2 linked regions of the Homo sapiens genome follow. The protein of the gene in region 1 purifies or fractionates together with the protein of each later gene. This does not show direct contact. Each region holds a gene or a part of one and is shown on either strand. Other genes may lie near its edges.

Region 1 (10,389 bases):
ATGAGAATTACTTCCATCCCAACATCTGTACTCTCCCCTAACTGGCTAGTTATTGGTCTGTCTCCCTGACTCACCTGGAAACCACCCTCAAGGTGAAAATTACGTAGTTCTGTTCATTGCATCTTGCAGAGTGCCTGGCACATCGCTGTGTGATAGGAAAGAATGAATGTGTATTTTTAAATTGGGCTTCTCCTTCTCTAGTTTTTGAACATGTGTATGTGGGTTTCTGTTTTGCCTGATGTGACGTGAGTCAAGTCATACTCAACCTGCTGTGTTCTCAGAAATGCAGTGCGGATGAGTAAGATAAATCATGTTAGCATCATATATAAGTGAGCTGAAGACTCTTACCACTCATCTCAGAGCACCATTAAGTAGCTGCCTACTGGGTCTCTCTAGGGTGTTCATGAATTAAAACTCCTGTGTTGTTCCAGGTCAGCTGTTGCCAGCAAACCGCAATACACCAAGTCCCATTGATCCTGACACCATCCAGGTCCCAGTGGGTTATGAGCCAGACCCAGCAGATCTTGCCCTTTCCAGCATCCCTGGCCAGGAAATGTTTGACCCTCGCAAACGCAAGTTCTCTGAGGAAGAACTGAAGCCACAGCCCATGATCAAGAAAGCTCGCAAAGTCTTCATCCCTGATGACCTGAAGGTAAATTGGAACTGGTAATCAGTCTTTGGGCAAATGGAGAGTGGGATCCACAGACAGATTAAAAGGGTGACCCCAGGATGATCCCAGAAGCTAGTGCATGAAGGATTTCTGATTTCTGATCCTGTTTCTTGGCATGTGACTTCTAGGCCAGTTGTTTCCTCTCTGGGTATTTTTTGAAATGCACTTTTATGTCTTGATGCTGAACAGAAACAAGGAGAAGCAGTAAAATGTTGGAGTGATTTTAAACCCATGAAGGAAACAAACCTGCTCCTATCTGCATGGAAACCCACAAAAGTCTAATAAAATTAAACCCCACATCTTTCAAGGTTGAGAAGAGAAAGAAAATCATTTGAGAAGGGCATCTGAACCTCATTGCCCTCGAAGGGTTACCTTCCTTTTAGAAAATTTTTGATAATTTGCTGCTGCCATTTCCCTGTAGGCTGCGAGGAATAACAGCCAGAGATAGGACCTTCCTCCATATTGCCAACCTTGGATGACCAGGGTGGGATTTTGTGAAGGAAACTGGTAGTTCCCTGACACCATTTATATGTATCTTAAGTAACGATCACTTGAATATCTCACCGCTAGATTAATTCTAAGTAGGTTTTCTCTGCAGTGTTGAAGGGACACCTTATTTATAAAGGGAAATAGATTTACCTTGGAAGTCAAATACAGCTTAAAACAAAATTAACCAGACACAATAATGACATCTTAGGATGAAAATTCTTTCCAAAATTATGCCATGTCTGCTAATGCCAAAATAGAACCATTTCTTATTAACCATTGCTTAGAACTTTCATGCTTCTTTCCAATCATGTGGGTACTAGAGATATGATTATTATGTAGTCAAGGCCTTGGAACCAGGCATAATTAGCCCTTTTCTACTGTCTGCCCCCCATCTCTCAAACCTAACTATTGTTCCTATGTAGAGACACTCCTAGGCTGGGAAATAGGAATTTGAGACAACGTCTGAACTGGCTTAGACCAGTTGTTCCTGCTTTACATAGCTAGAAAAAATGCTGGAAGCAGAAGTACCTGGCAAATTTAAATCACTGCTGTCATCCACATTCCTGAGATTACCTTAATTGATGCAGAATAGGAAAACATCAGGGCTGAAGGGGACCTTAGAGATTCATTTGTCCAAAATTACCACTTGCAGTTGAGGAAATGCAGAAAATGGAAAGCTGAAGTCAGCGGATCACTACCTGTTAGAGAAAGGCTTAGCCTGGCTCCCAGGTTGTCTTGCTTCCCAAAAGGTCACAGCAGCATGTTGGCCCTGACAAGGGCTATAACGGGGGCCCATGGGTGACAAATCAATGGCTGTCACCCTGAGAATCAAAAAAGGAAATCACATGGTAAAAACACCAGAAAATCTAAACTAGTCAGGACATTGATGGTTAGACTGAGATGGGGTAAAAAAGGGGCACCATGGGCTCAGGTCTTGGGCAATTAGGTACCTTATTTCAATGAGATGCCTTTCCTAGTCTTGTCTTCTTAGTGATCCAATTTTTTATGGTGTTTTTTTTTTTTTTTTTTTTGAGATGGAGTCGCACTCTGTTGCCCAGGCTGGAGTGCAGTGGCACGATCTCAGCTCACTGCAAGCTCCGCCTCCCCGGTTCAAGCCATCCTCATGCCTTAGCCTCCTGAGTAACTGAGACTACAGGCGCACGCCACCACGCCCGGCTAATTTTTTGTATTTTTAGTAGAGACGGGATTTCACCGTGTTCGCCAGGATGGTCTCGATCTCCTGACCTTGTGATCTGCCCACCTCGGTCTTCCAAAGTGCTGGGATTACAGGTGTAAGCCACCGCGCCCGGCCTTTTTTGTGTATTTTAAAGCCTCGTATCTTAAACTAAAGCCAGGGATCCTGTTCAACCTGGATTTTCTCTTGAATGGAGGGTAGTTTGAAAGGATGCTGCTATGAGTGATAGACAGAACTTCCAGCCAGACTTTCACAAAGTCTCCAGATTTATCAAAGAGCAAGATTAGTTAATAACCCAGGTAACCTTGGCAACAAAGAGGCCAGACAAAAACCGTCTGTGCTGGAATTACACATATTGCTGCTGTCATGGTCAGGCCTGACCTTTCCACATAGCAGGTGGGGAATGGGCAGGAACATTGTCCTGCCAGGTGTCCTTGGATATTTTTTAGTTGTGGACGAAGTCTCAAACTAAAGACCATGAGCTAATATAAAGCAGGAAGCAGAGCTGTAACATGTTTCTCCTTCTGGCAGAAAGGTCTGAGCTAAGGGTAGATGGAGGAGAAGGTGTTTCTGGCCCCCAGCATTGGACAAGTAAACCAGTTCAATGAAATGGCCCCACTAAAAATGATCTTCCCTGTAGCTGCCTGAACTTCCTCTCTTGAGCCAATCATTAGGGTTAGCATGCATGCGCTGGAGAAAGAAGGGAGAATTGAGGTTGACATGCTGGGGTACCTAGCTGAAAATCCATTTAATTACCTTGATTTTTTAAATGCTTTTAATGGTCCATTCATTCACTTGATGAATTTTTTCAAATGCTAGTGTGTGCCAACCCTCTAACCCTGTATCAGGGGCTGGGAATACCGAGGTGAGCCAATACTGATACTGTTCCTGCCTTCATGGAACTTGTAGTCTGGTGAGAAACAGGGAGTGTTGATCTGTTGGGTGGGGCGGGGCTAAGTGGGTCCCTTGTTGCATGGAGGTAACTGGGTAGCCAGATGGCATCAGCAACTGGGAGAGGGAAAGGGGGCAGAGGATGGAGTGCCAAGTTTATCAGCCCCGCTCAAAATCCCGCTTCCCCCCTGCCCGCAACCCTTCTGCGATAACAAAGGGAGGCGAGCAGGCTTTTCTAGTCCAGGACACTCCTTTCGTCATTCCTGCCTTCTGTATCCTCTTCTGGACCCGGTTCCCAGCTCCCCTCCCTCCCACCTGAAAGGTTTGTTTTGCATTCCACACCTTGGCTGGCTCATCTGCATGTGTGGACAGGTGAGGCTGGGAAATGAGAGCACTTTAGAAGTGAGAAGAGCTCTAATAAGTTAGAGAGAAGTTGGTTGTTACCCTGAAGTCAGCTGGTGACTCCCTGGTCATTAAGACCTGGTCAGAATTGTCTTACACCACATCAAGCCTGTGGCCTATGGTGGGACCCCCCATTCCTCCCCCATCACATACATGCAGTTTCTACAGTGTTCCAGGGGCTTGTTCTTATGTACCCCTTCGCCTCCTGGGCTCCTGTTCCCCCGTGTGCAGACTCTGATACATCCTAAATCAAGTCCTCTTTTGAGTGCTCTTGGAAACCGCACTCCCAGGCACATTGTTGGGTATAGATTTACTGATACTGTGAAGGGATTGGAACCCAGGCTTCTATCAAAACACAAATAACTTCCATCAGAACTGGAGGCTTCACCACTGTTGTTAACTGGAGGCTTCACCACTTTGGGCCCCCTCACCACCATGACGTCATTGACTCGCCTGACTCCTCCCAGCCTCTCCCCTGCCTCCAGCTCCCCTGCTCGCTTTCAGAAGCACAGACAACAAATTCGGCCAACAACCATTGCACACCTGCCCTAGCTTGCTCACCCAGGTATTCTTCAAAGAGCAGCCTCCTCCCTCCTACCCAGAAGAATTCTGGTAACATCTATTTTGAAAATCGTTTTTTTACCCTGTTGCATATTGTTATGAAATGTATAAAAAGCTGGGGGTGCTTTATTTAAGATGATAGTACTAGTTTGTGGATGGCAGATAGGAGGTATCTACACAGTTTCTATCCCACACTTTCTGTATTTGTGCAGGGCAAATGCCTGTTGAGGGTAATGGGCAGTTTTGGGGGTGGACCGCTGACCTTAGACTTTCCTTGCAGCTTTGGCCCCAACCCATGTGACCTCCTTCAATGCCAACTGCCCCTTGGAATTCTGAGGGGTGCAAGCACTGGCCTGACCCATTTATTCTGGGTGGCATGTAACTGCAGGTAGTAGCATTGCTAGGACTGAGGGATTTGCTGTTGCAAATTGTTGAAAAAGGGGAGTTGCAAAATTCACCAGGTGCCACCATCAGTGAATTGGGAAGATCTAAAAGAAGATCCCTGTTTCTTAGTCTTCTTAAGAAGTTTTTCCTTTCTGTCAGGGAGGCAGCAGTGGGGGTGGAGGGCAGGGAAGGAGGGATTGTTTTTACACTGACCACAGTAAAATATTACTCAGGCTAATTAAGGCCTAGAGAATGGTTAAACAAGAAATTAGAGTAAATTATGTAAATTCTGGCCACCAATATGAGTACATTGATTAGCGGCAGGTTGAAGATTTTTTTTTTTAATTTCTATTTTTAATTACCAAAGTGTATGTATCTATTATATGATATTGTAATAGTTCAGAATAATATAAAAGGTAGAAAGTCTTACATCTTTGCCTCTGCCAATCCCCCTTCTAGAGGCTCCACCTTTATAGATTAGTATAAATCTTTTTGCGCCTCTTTCTATGAATATATGATTTTTAATCAAACTGGGATGAGACCATACATATTTGTGTGTAAACTGTCATTGTTTCCACCCACATAGTGGCATATCATATGAACATCTTTCTGGTGCAGGTGGGTCATTATTTTTAACAGCTGCCAAGTATCCCTTTGTATGACTGTATCATAACGTGGTTGTTAAATCTCCTATGCATAGTTTTTCCTCATTTTTTCTACTGCACATAATGCTGCAGTGAACAGTTTATGCTTGTGTGTACATGCACATGTATGGAGATTGCTACAGGACAAAATCCTGGAAGTGGAGTGCTAGATGAATAGTATATCCATTTAAATAGTTGATAGATATTGCCAAATTGCCTTCTAAAATTTTTGTACCAACTCATACCCAAAAAAGCATATGAGTGCCCTTGAAGGAAAAGGGTTCTTAAAATGTTGAGCAGGGAGAGTAAAGAAAGTTGAAATGTAATTTAAGGGTGAGGTGAGCCACCTGCTTTCATCCAGCCTCTGATCTCTGCTTCACTGAGCACGCCTCTGCTGGGCAAAGAGTAGGAGCCTGTTGGGACAGATCGGTGGGTCCTTGCTCCAAGAAGGAAGTGTGGCTCATGGGCCACACTCTCAGACATGCAGAAACTGTAAAGGAAGGAGACACAAGCTAAGAAACCCGGGCTGGCACCTCTGCACAATCCTGGAGCCTGCCCGTGCCCTGGCTGGCACTGGGCTTTGCTGAAATCTAATATCTTGTTTCTTTTTCCCTTCTGTAACTAATGAGCAGGATGACAAGTACTGGGCAAGGCGCAGAAAGAACAACATGGCAGCCAAGCGCTCCCGCGACGCCCGGAGGCTGAAAGAGAACCAGATCGCCATCCGGGCCTCGTTCCTGGAGAAGGAGAACTCGGCCCTCCGCCAGGAGGTGGCTGACTTGAGGAAGGAGCTGGGCAAATGCAAGAACATACTTGCCAAGTATGAGGCCAGGCACGGGCCCCTGTAGGATGGCATTTTTGCAGGCTGGCTTTGGAATAGATGGACAGTTTGTTTCCTGTCTGATAGCACCACACGCAAACCAACCTTTCTGACATCAGCACTTTACCAGAGGCATAAACACAACTGACTCCCATTTTGGTGTGCATCTGTGTGTGTGTGCGTGTATATGTGCTTGTGCTCATGTGTGTGGTCAGCGGTATGTGCGTGTGCGTGTTCCTTTGCTCTTGCCATTTTAAGGTAGCCCTCTCATCGTCTTTTAGTTCCAACAAAGAAAGGTGCCATGTCTTTACTAGACTGAGGAGCCCTCTCGCGGGTCTCCCATCCCCTCCCTCCTTCACTCCTGCCTCCTCAGCTTTGCTTCATGTTCGAGCTTACCTACTCTTCCAGGACTCTCTGCTTGGATTCACTAAAAAGGGCCCTGGTAAAATAGTGGATCTCAGTTTTTAAGAGTACAAGCTCTTGTTTCTGTTTAGTCCGTAAGTTACCATGCTAATGAGGTGCACACAATAACTTAGCACTACTCCGCAGCTCTAGTCCTTTATAAGTTGCTTTCCTCTTACTTTCAGTTTTGGTGATAATCGTCTTCAAATTAAAGTGCTGTTTAGATTTATTAGATCCCATATTTACTTACTGCTATCTACTAAGTTTCCTTTTAATTCTACCAACCCCAGATAAGTAAGAGTACTATTAATAGAACACAGAGTGTGTTTTTGCACTGTCTGTACCTAAAGCAATAATCCTATTGTACGCTAGAGCATGCTGCCTGAGTATTACTAGTGGACGTAGGATATTTTCCCTACCTAAGAATTTCACTGTCTTTTAAAAAACAAAAAGTAAAGTAATGCATTTGAGCATGGCCAGACTATTCCCTAGGACAAGGAAGCAGAGGGAAATGGGAGGTCTAAGGATGAGGGGTTAATTTATCAGTACATGAGCCAAAAACTGCGTCTTGGATTAGCCTTTGACATTGATGTGTTCGGTTTTGTTGTTCCCCTTCCCTCACACCCTGCCTCGCCCCCACTTTTCTAGTTAACTTTTTCCATATCCCTCTTGACATTCAAAACAGTTACTTAAGATTCAGTTTTCCCACTTTTTGGTAATATATATATTTTTGTGAATTATACTTTGTTGTTTTTAAAAAGAAAATCAGTTGATTAAGTTAATAAGTTGATGTTTTCTAAGGCCCTTTTTCCTAGTGGTGTCATTTTTGAATGCCTCATAAATTAATGATTCTGAAGCTTATGTTTCTTATTCTCTGTTTGCTTTTGAACGTATGTGCTCTTATAAAGTGGACTTCTGAAAAATGAATGTAAAAGACACTGGTGTATCTCAGAAGGGGATGGTGTTGTCACAAACTGTGGTTAATCCAATCAATTTAAATGTTTACTATAGACCAAAAGGAGAGATTATTAAATCGTTTAATGTTTATACAGAGTAATTATAGGAAGTTCTTTTTTGTACAGTATTTTTCAGATATAAATACTGACAATGTATTTTGGAAGACATATATTATATATAGAAAAGAGGAGAGGAAAACTATTCCATGTTTTAAAATTATATAGCAAAGATATATATTCACCAATGTTGTACAGAGAAGAAGTGCTTGGGGGTTTTTGAAGTCTTTAATATTTTAAGCCCTATCACTGACACATCAGCATGTTTTCTGCTTTAAATTAAAATTTTATGACAGTATCGAGGCTTGTGATGACGAATCCTGCTCTAAAATACACAAGGAGCTTTCTTGTTTCTTATTAGGCCTCAGAAAGAAGTCAGTTAACGTCACCCAAAAGCACAAAATGGATTTTAGTCAAATATTTATTGGATGATACAGTGTTTTTTAGGAAAAGCATCTGCCACAAAAATGTTCACTTCGAAATTCTGAGTTCCTGGAATGGCACGTTGCTGCCAGTGCCCCAGACAGTTCTTTTCTACCCTGCGGGCCCGCACGTTTTATGAGGTTGATATCGGTGCTATGTGTTTGGTTTATAATTTGATAGATGTTTGACTTTAAAGATGATTGTTCTTTTGTTTCATTAAGTTGTAAAATGTCAAGAAATTCTGCTGTTACGACAAAGAAACATTTTACGCTAGATTAAAATATCCTTTCATCAATGGGATTTTCTAGTTTCCTGCCTTCAGAGTATCTAATCCTTTAATGATCTGGTGGTCTCCTCGTCAATCCATCAGCAATGCTTCTCTCATAGTGTCATAGACTTGGGAAACCCAACCAGTAGGATATTTCTACAAGGTGTTCATTTTGTCACAAGCTGTAGATAACAGCAAGAGATGGGGGTGTATTGGAATTGCAATACATTGTTCAGGTGAATAATAAAATCAAAAACTTTTGCAATCTTAAGCAGAGATAAATAAAAGATAGCAATATGAGACACAGGTGGACGTAGAGTTGGCCTTTTTACAGGCAAAGAGGCGAATTGTAGAATTGTTAGATGGCAATAGTCATTAAAAACATAGAAAAATGATGTCTTTAAGTGGAGAATTGTGGAAGGATTGTAACATGGACCATCCAAATTTATGGCCGTATCAAATGGTAGCTGAAAAAACTATATTTGAGCACTGGTCTCTCTTGGAATTAGATGTTTATATCAAATGAGCATCTCAAATGTTTTCTGCAGAAAAAAATAAAAAGATTCTAATAAAATGTATTCTCTTGTGTGCCAGGAGAGGTTTCAGAAACCTACCTCGTCTTACAAATTTAAACACTTTGGAGTCTGTACAGGTGCCTTATATGTAGGTCATTGTCACGATACACACACACGAACACTCCCTCTGGACTGGCTGCCTCTCCATCCAGGGCAGTTAACTAGCAAACAAGGCAGATCTGCTTCATGGAGCGGGAGGCCATGGCTTGACTCTGAGTGATTTGGGTCAACCGGAGTCAGACGCATGTCTGCACGCTGCAGCTATTATGAGAGTCCCTTTGTCATTTTTCACCTTTTCATCCTAAGCATCTTTCAGAGATTAATTATTTGGCCATTAACAATGAATCCAAATCATATCATACTGACATCATCTAGACATGATTTGGAAGGAACAGCTTAGGACCTCCTGATGAGGTCACATTGTTGTTTCTTTTAACTAGACTTGGCAAAGAAAGGCAAAAATTGACCAGCCTATCTTTCTGCTGGTGCTGCCTTAAGGAGGTAGTTTGTTGAGGGGAGGGCTGTAGATCATTACTTCTTTCTCTTCAGGAAGTGGCCACTTTGAACCATTCAAATACCACATTAGGCAAGACTGTGATAGGCCTTTTGTCTTCAAATACAACAGGCCTCCACTGACCCATCCCTCAAAGCAGAAGGACCCTTTGAGGAGAGTACAGATGGGATTCCACAGTGGGGTGGGTGGAATGGAAACCTGTACTAGACCACCCAGAGGTTCCTTCTAACCCACTGGTTTGGTGGGGAACTCACAGTAATTCCAAATGTACAATCAGATGTCTAGGGTCTGTTTTCGGAAGAAGCAAGAATTATCAGTGGCACCCTCCCCACTGCCCCCAGTGTAAAACAATAGACATTCTGTGAAATGCAAAGCTATTCTTTGGTTTTTCTAGTAGTTTATCTCATTTTACCCTATTCTTCCTTTAAGGAAAACTCAATCTTTATCACAGTCAATTAGAGCGATCCCAAGGCATGGGACCAGGCCTGCTTGCCTATGTGTGATGGCAATTGGAGATCTGGATTTAGCACTGGGGTCTCAGCACCCTGCAGGTGTCTGAGACTAAGTGATCTGCCCTCCAGGTGGCGATCACCTTCTGCTCCTAGGTACCCCCACTGGCAAGGCCAAGGTCTCCTCCACGTTTTTTCTGCAATTAATAATGTCATTTAAAAAATGAGCAAAGCCTTATCCGAATCGGATATAGCAACTAAAGTCAATACATTTTGCAGGAGGCTAAGTGTAAGAGTGTGTGTGTGTGTGTGTGCGTGCATGTGTGTGTGTGTGTATGTGTGTGAATAAGTCGACATAAAGTCTTTAATTTTGAGCACCTTACCAAACATAACAATAATCCATTATCCTTTTGGCAACACCACAAAGATCGCATCTGTTAAACAGGTACAAGTTGACATGAGGTTAGTTTAATTGTACACCATGATATTGGTGGTATTTATGCTGTTAAGTCCAAACCTTTATCTGTCTGTTATTCTTAATGTTGAATAAACTTTGAATTTTTTCCTTTCTTTCATGTATTTTTATTAACAGTTGGCTAGCAATGGTATTCTGTTCCCACCTCGGTAGCAAAGAGACCATTTGTAGAGATTATTACCTAGATAATAAAATGATAATACTATATAATTAG
Region 2 (9,960 bases), on another chromosome or scaffold:
TGTGTTGGCTCTAGAGTTAAATGATAAAAGAATGTAAATGCTCCAGAAGTTCAGTTGATGATTTTCACTGATGGGAGTCCTAGAGTTTATATATGAATAAAATTCGTGTTCTAAGATTTTACACTTAGAAGATTTTAAGTTACAGATTGTCAGTAGTAACCTTTTTTCTCTCCCACAAAACTTACAGGTATTTACCTCCTGAGTGTTTTGTAGTTGGAAAAGAGCCACCAAAGATTTCCAACAAGGTTGATGTATGGTCGGTTGGAGTCATCTTCTTTCAGTGTCTTTATGGTAGAAAGGTAAATTGAATTCTACCAGCCTTCAGCTCTACAGAGATAAATTAAGTTGAATTTTTCCTTCTTAAAAGCAAAATTTCACTAACTTAAAGTCAATTTAGATCCTTCTAAAGAAAGCCAGGCTTCTCCTCTATTTCTTCCTAAAATTTCCATGGATCAGAATTATTTTAATGTCACACCAGTTTACTTGACCTACTTTTTGCTTTCTTTCCTTTTTTTAAGAAAAGAAGTAACTATCTGTTAACATGCTAATATTTGTCTGCTATTGGGAATACTGGAGTCAATACTTTTCATTATCCACCATTCACTTGACCTCCTCTTACACCCCCCACCCCACCCACACACACAGTTTGGCCTGGGTGGGCAGTTTCCCCGTTGCTCATCAGGGAAATACCATCAAACTTAGTCTTATTTCCCAACTTCTTTTTATATTGAAGTTGGAAGTGCAGGTTACCATAAATATTAACTAGCCCACATCCCACCCCATCCCTTCATCAATAGGGGAAGAGAGGTTAAGGGATTTGTGTGGGATCTCCTCACTCCAAATCCAGAGCTCCTTCATTTAAATTCGCCTGTGATGCACACAGTATTTTATTCTTTGGAAATTGTCATAGACATTTTCATTACTACTTCATCTCTTCTCTAACTGAACTTCATTGTTTATTCAGAATAAAGTTTTAAATTTATGTTTTTATCTTATATTGCAACAGCATTATTTTCTTCTTCTTACAGTGTTTAATCTATGTTGAAGATCTGTTAGGTAGGCTTTCTTGGCCTGCTATCAATTATAGCTTGTTTGTATGAGAATTCATCTCAGGTTTCAAATAACTGAGGAAGATTTTAGAACACAAGATATTTGGATTTTCGGTTTTGGGAATTCGCTTAAACAGAAATGATATCTGTGTTTAAATATTTTGTGAGAAAAGTATCTCAACATTTAATTTTTTTTTTAAGCCATTTGGTCACAATCAATCTCAACAAGACATTCTTCAAGAAAATACAATATTAAAAGCCACAGAAGTCCAGTTCCCTGTAAAACCGGTTGTAAGCAGTGAAGCCAAGGTATTAAATTTTTGTAAATGAGTTTTGTGAAGTAACTTTTCTTTCATCAGTTGTGCTGACAACAAGGTAAGTACTTTCCAGTAAGTAAAGTCACAAGACTCGCTGCTGCAGGGGATCTGTCCAGCAGGGGCTGGTGATTTACTTTCAGAGAAGGAGTTGCATCAGCCTCTGGTTGCTATAGTTTTTATCTTTTAAGCTATGGTCTCTGATTGTTTATGTTCATCAGCTGCTACTTTGAAAATTAGGGAAAAATCACAAGATCTGGGCTCATCATTACCTTTTATGTATTATTTTATCTGCTTATGTTAATACTGAGATATATAAGTATATAAGAAATATTAAAAGTAATAATAAGGCTGGGCGTGGTGGCTCACACCTGTAATCCCAGCACTTTGGGAGGCCAAGGCGGGCAGATCATCTGAGGTCAGGAGTTTGAGACCAGCCTGACCAACATGGTGAAACCCGGTCTCTACTAAAAATACAAAAATTAGCCAGGCGTGGTGGCACACATCTAGAGTCTCAGTTGCTTGGGAGTCTGAGGTGGGAGGATCACCTGAGCTCAGGGAGGTCAAGGCTGCAGTGAGCCATGACGATACCGCTGCACTCAAACCTGGGGGACAGAGTGACACCCTGTCTCAAAAAAACCAAATAGGCCATGCGCGGTGGCTCACACCTGTAATCCAGCAATTTGGGAGGCCCAGGCAGGCAGATTGCCTGAGCCCAGGAGTTCGAGACCAGCCTGGGCAACATGGTGAAACCCCATCTCTACTAAAAATACAAAAATTAGCCCGGTGTAGGGGCCCGTGCCTTTAGTTTCAGCTTCTCAGGATGCTGAGCTGGGAGGATCGCTTGAGACCAAGAGGTAGAGGTTGCAGTGAGGTGAGATCGCACCACTGCACTCCTGCATGGGCGACATAGCAAGACCCATTCTCAAAAAAACAAAAGAGATAAATATTCTTATTTGAAAGCAAAATGAATTATTTTTGTAAGATAAATATGACTCCTTTAAAAATATTTTAACTGTGCTGACATCTAAATCTTGTCTTATTTTCTGTCTGTAGCCTCATTGAGAACAGAAATTAAATGAATTTAGTTGATTCATGATCTGTTTGTTTAATACTGACTGAAAAGACCAGGAGGAGTGGAGTTGCCAAAGGCAAAGTCTCATTTAGCCATTCCTGGTTCTCTCCTTAGGCTCTTAATAGGCACCACAGTCACCTTTTAGAGATCTGGAATCCAGGAAGGGTTAAGGGGTTGTTGGGGGGATATAATATTAATATGATACAATTATATGATATAAATTTTAATATTTTAATGTAATATATAATATCTCTATATTCTGTATCCCTACAGAAGATACCTTTGCCAAGTACTTTCCCTGACTTGGTGTGGGCATCTTTAAGTACATTATTTGTTGCAGACTTAACCTTAACCTTGCTATTGATAGCCTTTCCACTCCTCAAACTCTAACATATCAGTCTTGATGTTTTTTTCCCTCTTAATCATTTTTCAAAGTGATCTCTGAAACTTTGTTAAAGATAAAAAAGATAAGTCCTCTAAGGGATCAGATTGACTTCCAATAAACAGTAAGCTATGGTAAAATGAGAATAGCTAGGTATATTTTTAGAGAAAAATATACTTCTAATGAATTTCAAAGCAAAGAAAGTGCAAAATAGTTACCTTTTAATGTGATTATACTTCTGTTTAATGGTATGTATTAATTTCTAGTGTCAGCATTAAGAAAGGGAAACAATTACCAGTTACCTCCTGAGAATATTTTATCTGTTCCCTCCCCCCCCAAAAAAGGATGAACCTCAAAATTTAATATTGGGTGAAAGAGGCCTGGCAAAGGAGAACATAATTTATAATTCTATTTATATAAAATTCAAACAATCAAAACTCAACTATGGTTTTAGAAGTCAAGATAAAGGTTAACCCAGGTTCGACTGGGGACAGAGCCAGTGCCTGGAACTGGGCATGAGGGGGATTCAGAGGTTCTTTTTCTTGATCTGGTTGCCAGTTACATAGATGTATTTACTTTGTGCTATGCACTTAACGATTTGTGTGCATTTCTAAAAATGTGTTACACTTCAGGAAAGGTTTTTTTTTTTTTTGTAAGAGGCTATTCTCAAAGAAAAACTGAGTAAAATTGGTTTGAGAAAAAAAAAATAGTGATTATATTCTGTTTATTTAGCTTTTCCAGGAGTGTAATGATGCATAGGGTTAACCTGGGAAACAATGTCCCTAATGAAAGTGTCCCTTCAGTGATCTCTTCATCTAAAGAAAGTCTTTATGTCAGTAGGAAAAAAAAATAATGGTTGAAAATGGCATCTTACCCTTTGCTAAACTGAAGTGATAACAAAATGGGATGAGGGTGGGAGGACTGTTTAGCAGAAGAAAAATGCTAGAAAAAAGTCTTCAGAATTTCGTAAGCAGAAACAACTTTCCAGTATAAGTTCAAATGGTTGCAGTAGTAATTTAGACTGTAAAGTGAACCACTGCAGGGGCTTCAAGCAGTGAGTTGCATTTGGAGTGAGAATTTTCTAGCTACAGAATTTTTTTTTTAAGGTTTGAACTTCCAATAAAATGAGATCTACTTATGTCTTAAATGTGTCCATCCTTCTGCTGATTCAGTTGATTGATATTTAGAAGGGAAAAAGATCATTAATTGCTAACATTTCCTTTCTCTTTTTGAGGCATTTATAAGACGCTGTTTGGCATATCGAAAAGAAGATCGATTTGATGTGCACCAGCTGGCAAATGACCCATACCTTCTCCCACACATGAGAAGATCAAATTCTTCAGGAAACCTACACATGGCTGGGCTGACAGCATCCCCTACACCCCCTTCTTCAAGCATAATTACTTACTGACTTTCCTCCAAGATTGGCATGATATCTTTGAATTTGCTTCCAGATGCACACTTAAGTTTGAGAGCATTTGAGTGTTTGTTTTCTTTTTCTTTTTTTTTTTTTTTTTTTTTTACACAAGACGTGGTTAAGAACTGTTTGTGAACTGAAGTTCCTCATAGTGTCATTTGTATGAGAGAGGATCATGGACAATGAATAAATGCACACTTCTGACTATAATTTTGAGCAGTGAAGGAAGGATGACTGCCTGTTACACAGAAACAGGAATACCATGTTAAGATAGAGGAAAAAAATTTTGTTTATTTGGGGGAACACTGTAAATAACGTTTATAATACTTAAATACATTTGGTTGTTACTAGAGAGTTCTAATATGAAGGGTAGTTTTTCATTATTTAAAAACACATGGAAAAATATGAGACATATTTCTAACATACGAACTATAGTGCCTGGATACATTCTTCAGCATTTGGCAGTTAATCTGCTGAAACCAAAGTAAGAACTGAATGACAGTGACAGTTGTGTTTTATAGTAATAGAATGTGAGAGTTAGAATCTTTGGACAAAGTTAGGCTTTGTCATTTGCCTATTCAGACTTTTACCAAGTTGTACCTCGAGATCACATGTCCGTTTTCTTTCACTGGTTATATTAAAGGGAGAGCTATTATTTCTAAATACTTTACACCTTTGACAAAATGAGCTGCTTGTGTTGAAATCAGTTGAATTCACTAAATTATAATATTGCCAGTGTTTTCAACACGTTAGAATTGATAACAGGTATTTTTCTTTTGTTACCAGGCCTTGTTCATCAAAACAGGTGACAGTGAGTAACCAAATGCAGACCAGTTCTATGCAGGATAATGATAAATTCCCTTCTAGCTCTATTGTAAATTGTTGTACAGATGTCATATTTCAATTACTAAGTTTCAGCAGCTTATTCTTGTACAAATGTTTAAAATATGGCTTTTCTAATTGGATATTGTATTTTTTTTAAGTCTTCTTGAAGGCACTCTAATTGCTGCTAAATGATGTTGCTTCTTTGCTAAAAAATTAAATGACCTAGAAGGTGCAAGTTGACTGTACATCATAGATATTAAAAAGCAGACAGTCATTAACAATCAAGATGTAAAAGTGATCCATGTTGGACATAATTGAGTTTTTAAATCAGTTTATTGGGTTCTAGGGCTGTAGAACACATAGATACTAGATTTTTAATTTGTTCATGGTTATTCTACATTTCTAGAAAGTTCTTATCAGCAAGATGGTCCCATAAGCAAATTTCTTGTGGTTTGTACAGATTTGTTAAAATGTGAACGTTTTCTAACTGCCTCGTAGGGTAGAAACCAATATTTTTCAGGATGCTGTATTTCACTCCTGTAAGGACTTTTTCTTTATTGTCACATTCATAATGCTGATACTTACATGTAAGTTGTTCATGTTGCAGAAAAAGGTTATACGTACCACGGATTCTCTTTAATATTGTACAGTTAAACTGTATTTCTGATGTTGCAAGCCATTTTGTTTTTTCATTGTACATAGACACATTGTCTCTTTAAAATGCTGCTGAAATTGTAGAGAGTATAGCCAAAACAGTAATAAACAATGACAGTTAAAATGTAAAGACTATGAAAATTACATTGGAAGGGAGCTTTCAAGATGGTAGGATATTGACTAACTGAGCTCCTTCACTTAAAAATCAGCTGAATAAATTCCTTAAGTATACTTCAAGACAAGTGTAAATTGTTTCAAGCTGTTAAAGTTAAACCTAATAACCATTATCAAGGCAACTCCTGGGTAAGTAACACTTAGAACCATCAAGAGTGGTTTAAGGGGCTGGCTATACCCATTCCTCTGTAGAGCACAGAGAAATCCTATTAAAAAAAAAATACTACATGGTAATGAAATCTTAGCATTGATTGAGTGCTTTACGTGCTGCCTGCAAGTTTTCAGTTTTGTTGTTAGAGTTTTCGTCTTTATGAATGATAAAGTCCTATGTTCATAAAGTAACATTTAAATTCCTGAACTAAAAGGAAATGCCTGTTGTGCTTAAAATTTTGGGGAGATACGAAGTGAATGTGTAAATCTAACTTTGAGGTTCAGTAAGTTAAGTAGTATAGACCTAGAGATCACTGCTTTACCATTTTACTTTCAAATGAATGAGAGCGACTGCTAGTGGCAGAACGCAGAAAAGGGGAAAAACAAGCCATGAAATGAAGTTGCTTTCCTGACCTGGGTTTAGGTCATCATTTTAAAATCAAAGATGTGTAGGAGATGAATCAACTTATAGACCCATATTTTCCTTCTAAAAGTTTCCCAAAGAAATGTTATAGATTTTGAATAACATGCCAGTGACCCAGCAGGTCCAAGATGGCTAACCAAGATGGCTAATTTAGCCACATTGAATAACTTACTTTTACCCTCACATGGAAAGTTGGTATCTATTGCTAAATGATTTCAAGGTCACTCTGACAGTCTTTGACACTGTTTTTTTTAGGGTTTTATTGTTTTCTGGTCTCCTGGTGTCTGTCCTCAGAATTAAAGCATGTCCTGCATCCCTAAGATGATAGCCAAGGCCTCTCTTTTATTAAGAGTCAGCACTGATGTAGGGTAAAATCAACAGTTTTTGCATATGATTTTAAAATCTTTCTTTGATTTGAATTTGCTTTAGTGTGTGCATGTTGAGAGGAAGTAAGTGTAGAAACCACCCTAATTTGTAAGTTGGGAGTTGGAGATACTTGGTGGTTTTTCAAAAATAAAGACTCAATCTTTTTTTTTTTTTTAAACACTCACTACCATCTCCTTCTAAAACAACTCTGTCAGTTTAAATGGCATATAAAATGTGAACAAACACCTCATTACATGAAGTCAAAATGGTGAAGAGCTTCAGTGAAACATTTAAAGAGTATATTGTGTGTTGTTTTGCTGTTCATCATTACTTATTAAATGCAGTAATGTTGATTGCCCTCATGCTATTAGCTGTGTTTTAGTTGTATAGTACAGTTCACCTAGATTAATTTACTCTTAAAATTTAATTACATTGCTGTTTGATTTTTGTGTGAATGTTATAACCTTACTTACACATTTAAAAGCCCATTGACAGGTCTTTCTTTAATTCTGCCTTAAGTTTTGACCTGTTAACTGATGATTTTTCATCTACATATACTAAATTTCAATGTTCTGAAGATTTAATCTAATTCAAAAAGTGCTTTTAGGCTGGCAGTGATGGCTCATACCTGTAATCCCAGCTCTTTGGGAGGCCAAGGCAGGTAAATCATTTGAGGTCAGGAGTTGGAGACCACCAGCCTGACCAACATGGTGAAACCCCATCTCTACTAAAAGTACAAAAAAATTAGCTGGGCATGGTGGTGCATACCTGTAATCTCAGCTACTCAGGAGGCTGAGGCAGGATAGTCACTTGAACCCCAGAGGCGCAGGTTGCAGTGAGCTGAGATCATACCTCTGCACTCCAGCCTGGGCGACAGGGTGAGACTCCATCTCAAAAATAAATAAATAAGTGCTTTTAGCAGCTAGTTTTAGAATTAAATTGGAATTCTAGTTCCTGTGTTTCAGTTCATTCTTCGGCAGTTTTAGAATTTATATAACTTGTTTTTCAATTTAAATTAGATGTATTTCCTACAACATAAACATCTCCATTTACCTTCCCCTACTTTCCCTTCATTTCTCTTTTTTGAGGATTCCTCCCCCACCCCGCCCCCTCTGGGAATTCTATAATTTTTGAAAAGGAAAGATTTGAGTAAATGTGTTTAAATCAACTTTTAAAGTTATTTGCAGAGAGCCAGAGAATGGGGTAGAAGAGTTACTTATAGTTAGGACAAAAATGCATGGCTTTCACCTGGAAATCTTCATTTGTCTAAAGTAATAGAGATGTGGATTATCTACACACATATGACTGGTTTTGTTTTTGTTTGAGACGGGGTTTCACTCTGTCACCCAGGCTGGAGTGCAGTGGTGTGATCTCAGCTCACTGCAACCTCTGCCTCCCGGGCTCAAGCTGGGACTACAGGCGTATGCCACCACGCCCAGCTACTTTTGTACTTTTTGTAGAGACGGGGTTTCACCATGTTGCACAGGCTGATCTCGAACTCCTGGGCTCAGGCGATCTACCTGCCTGGGCCTCGTAAAGTGCTGGGATTACAGGTGTGAGCCACAGTGCCTGGCCCATATGACTGTTTTAAGAAGGGCAATAAAATAGGTTAAGATATCAATTTTTTTGAACCAGAGTTTTTGGATTAAAATGTTGACTAACATTTACTACCTGTGTTTCTGGTTCCTCATCTGAAAATTAGGGTACAACTACCCATCATGCAGAGTGGCTGCAAGGAATGAATAAGTGAATTCACATATGTAACGCACTCAACCTTTACTTATATGCCCAGCTCATAAGTAGGTACTGTATATAATAAGCTGCTATTGTCATCATCCCTTTTTAAAACTCAAAAGATTATTCTATTAGCCCTATTTATAAAATTCAGTCTGCTTTGCTTCCTGTGGTAATTTTAATTATTTTAAGAAACACTTTCACAGTGCTTGACTCAGGTTTCAAACAAGTGATGATTAGATTGTCTGGAAATGGAAGGTGAGGAAATGTAGCAATTTGAAACAAAAAGTAGTAGCTGTGTGTGTGAACTAATTGCCAAAAGGATCATGCCCTATTGATGCTGTTTCATCACAGATATCTGTCATATTTTCCACAGTTTCCTTGCTAGTAACAACTGATTGAGGTAGGACAGATGACAGTATCCGTGTTCTACAAAGGAGGAAACAGATTTGGAGTGGGGGAATAACTTGGTAAAGCCACATAACTGGTAAGCACAGCTTTTGGAGTCGTGGAGCAAGGTTTTTAACTATGTTAACATCTTGGTATATAGTAAACATGGCGTAGTGAGTTAAATCTCATCATGACTCTTCAAAGGTGACAGCCAAATAGCTACAGACATTATTGTCATCTTTTTAAAAGCAAATCTAAAGATTTTTTTTTTTTTTTTTTTTGAAACAGGGTCTCTCTGAAACCCTGTTTTTTTGAAACACCCCTCTCTGAAACAGGGTCACTCAGGCTGGAGTGCAGTGGTGCAGCCTCAGCTCACTGCAGCCTTGACCTCCCGGGCTCAAGCAATCCTCCCACCTCAGCCTCTCAAGTAGCTGGGGCTACAGGTGCATGCCACCATACCCGGCTACTTTTTTTGTATTTTTTGCAGGGGCTCACCATGTTGTCCAGGCTGGTCTCGAACTGGGCCAAGTGATCCACCCACTTCAGTCTCCCAAAGTGCTAGAATTACAGATGTGACCCACATCACGCCTGACCTAAGAATTTTTCAAGTGTTAGATGAAGAATGCCATCTGAGCTGAGTCTTGTTGGCTGTGAGTCACTAGAGAGCAGAGCCCTGCCACAGACCCATTCTAGGTAAGAGGGAGAGTGGGCTGCACCTTTTTCTGTTCTTACATCTTTTTCCCTTGCCTTTTTAAGTCAAAGATCAGGTCCATCGATGAGCTACCCCACCCCATTCTACCTGTCTTACAGAAAGCACCTCATGGAGGTCTTCCTCTGCCCACTGTCACAGGCACAGAAAGTACTCCTGGTTCCTCTCCCCGCAGTGGTACCAGTTGCTCTTTTTTTTTTTTTTTTAAATGCTGGGTGCAGTGGCTCATGCCTGTAATCCCAGCACTTTGGGAGGCTGAGGCGGGTGGATCACCAGAGGTCAGGAGTTTCAGACCAG

The links.
Region 2: the proteins of HLF (region 1) and TLK1 purify together in Homo sapiens (affinity purification with mass spectrometry; 2 studies listed by BioGRID and IntAct, with this or other methods). This does not show direct contact.

What each region holds. Positions count from the first base shown.
Region 1 is NC_000017.11:55,314,796-55,325,184, forward strand, and holds part of HLF (hepatic leukemia factor), read left to right. Parts: intron 1-431; coding exon 432-652; intron 653-5,865; coding exon of another isoform or gene 5,866-5,868; coding exon 5,869-6,084; 3' UTR 6,085-10,389.
Region 2 is NC_000002.12:170,988,051-170,998,010, reverse strand, and holds the end of TLK1 (serine/threonine-protein kinase tousled-like 1), read left to right. Parts: intron 1-187; coding exon 188-299; intron 300-1,250; coding exon 1,251-1,358; intron 1,359-4,054; coding exon 4,055-4,231; 3' UTR 4,232-7,188; downstream 7,189-9,960. UniProt on the Homo sapiens protein: Rapidly and transiently inhibited by phosphorylation following the generation of DNA double-stranded breaks during S-phase. This is cell cycle checkpoint and ATM-pathway dependent and appears to regulate processes involved in chromatin assembly.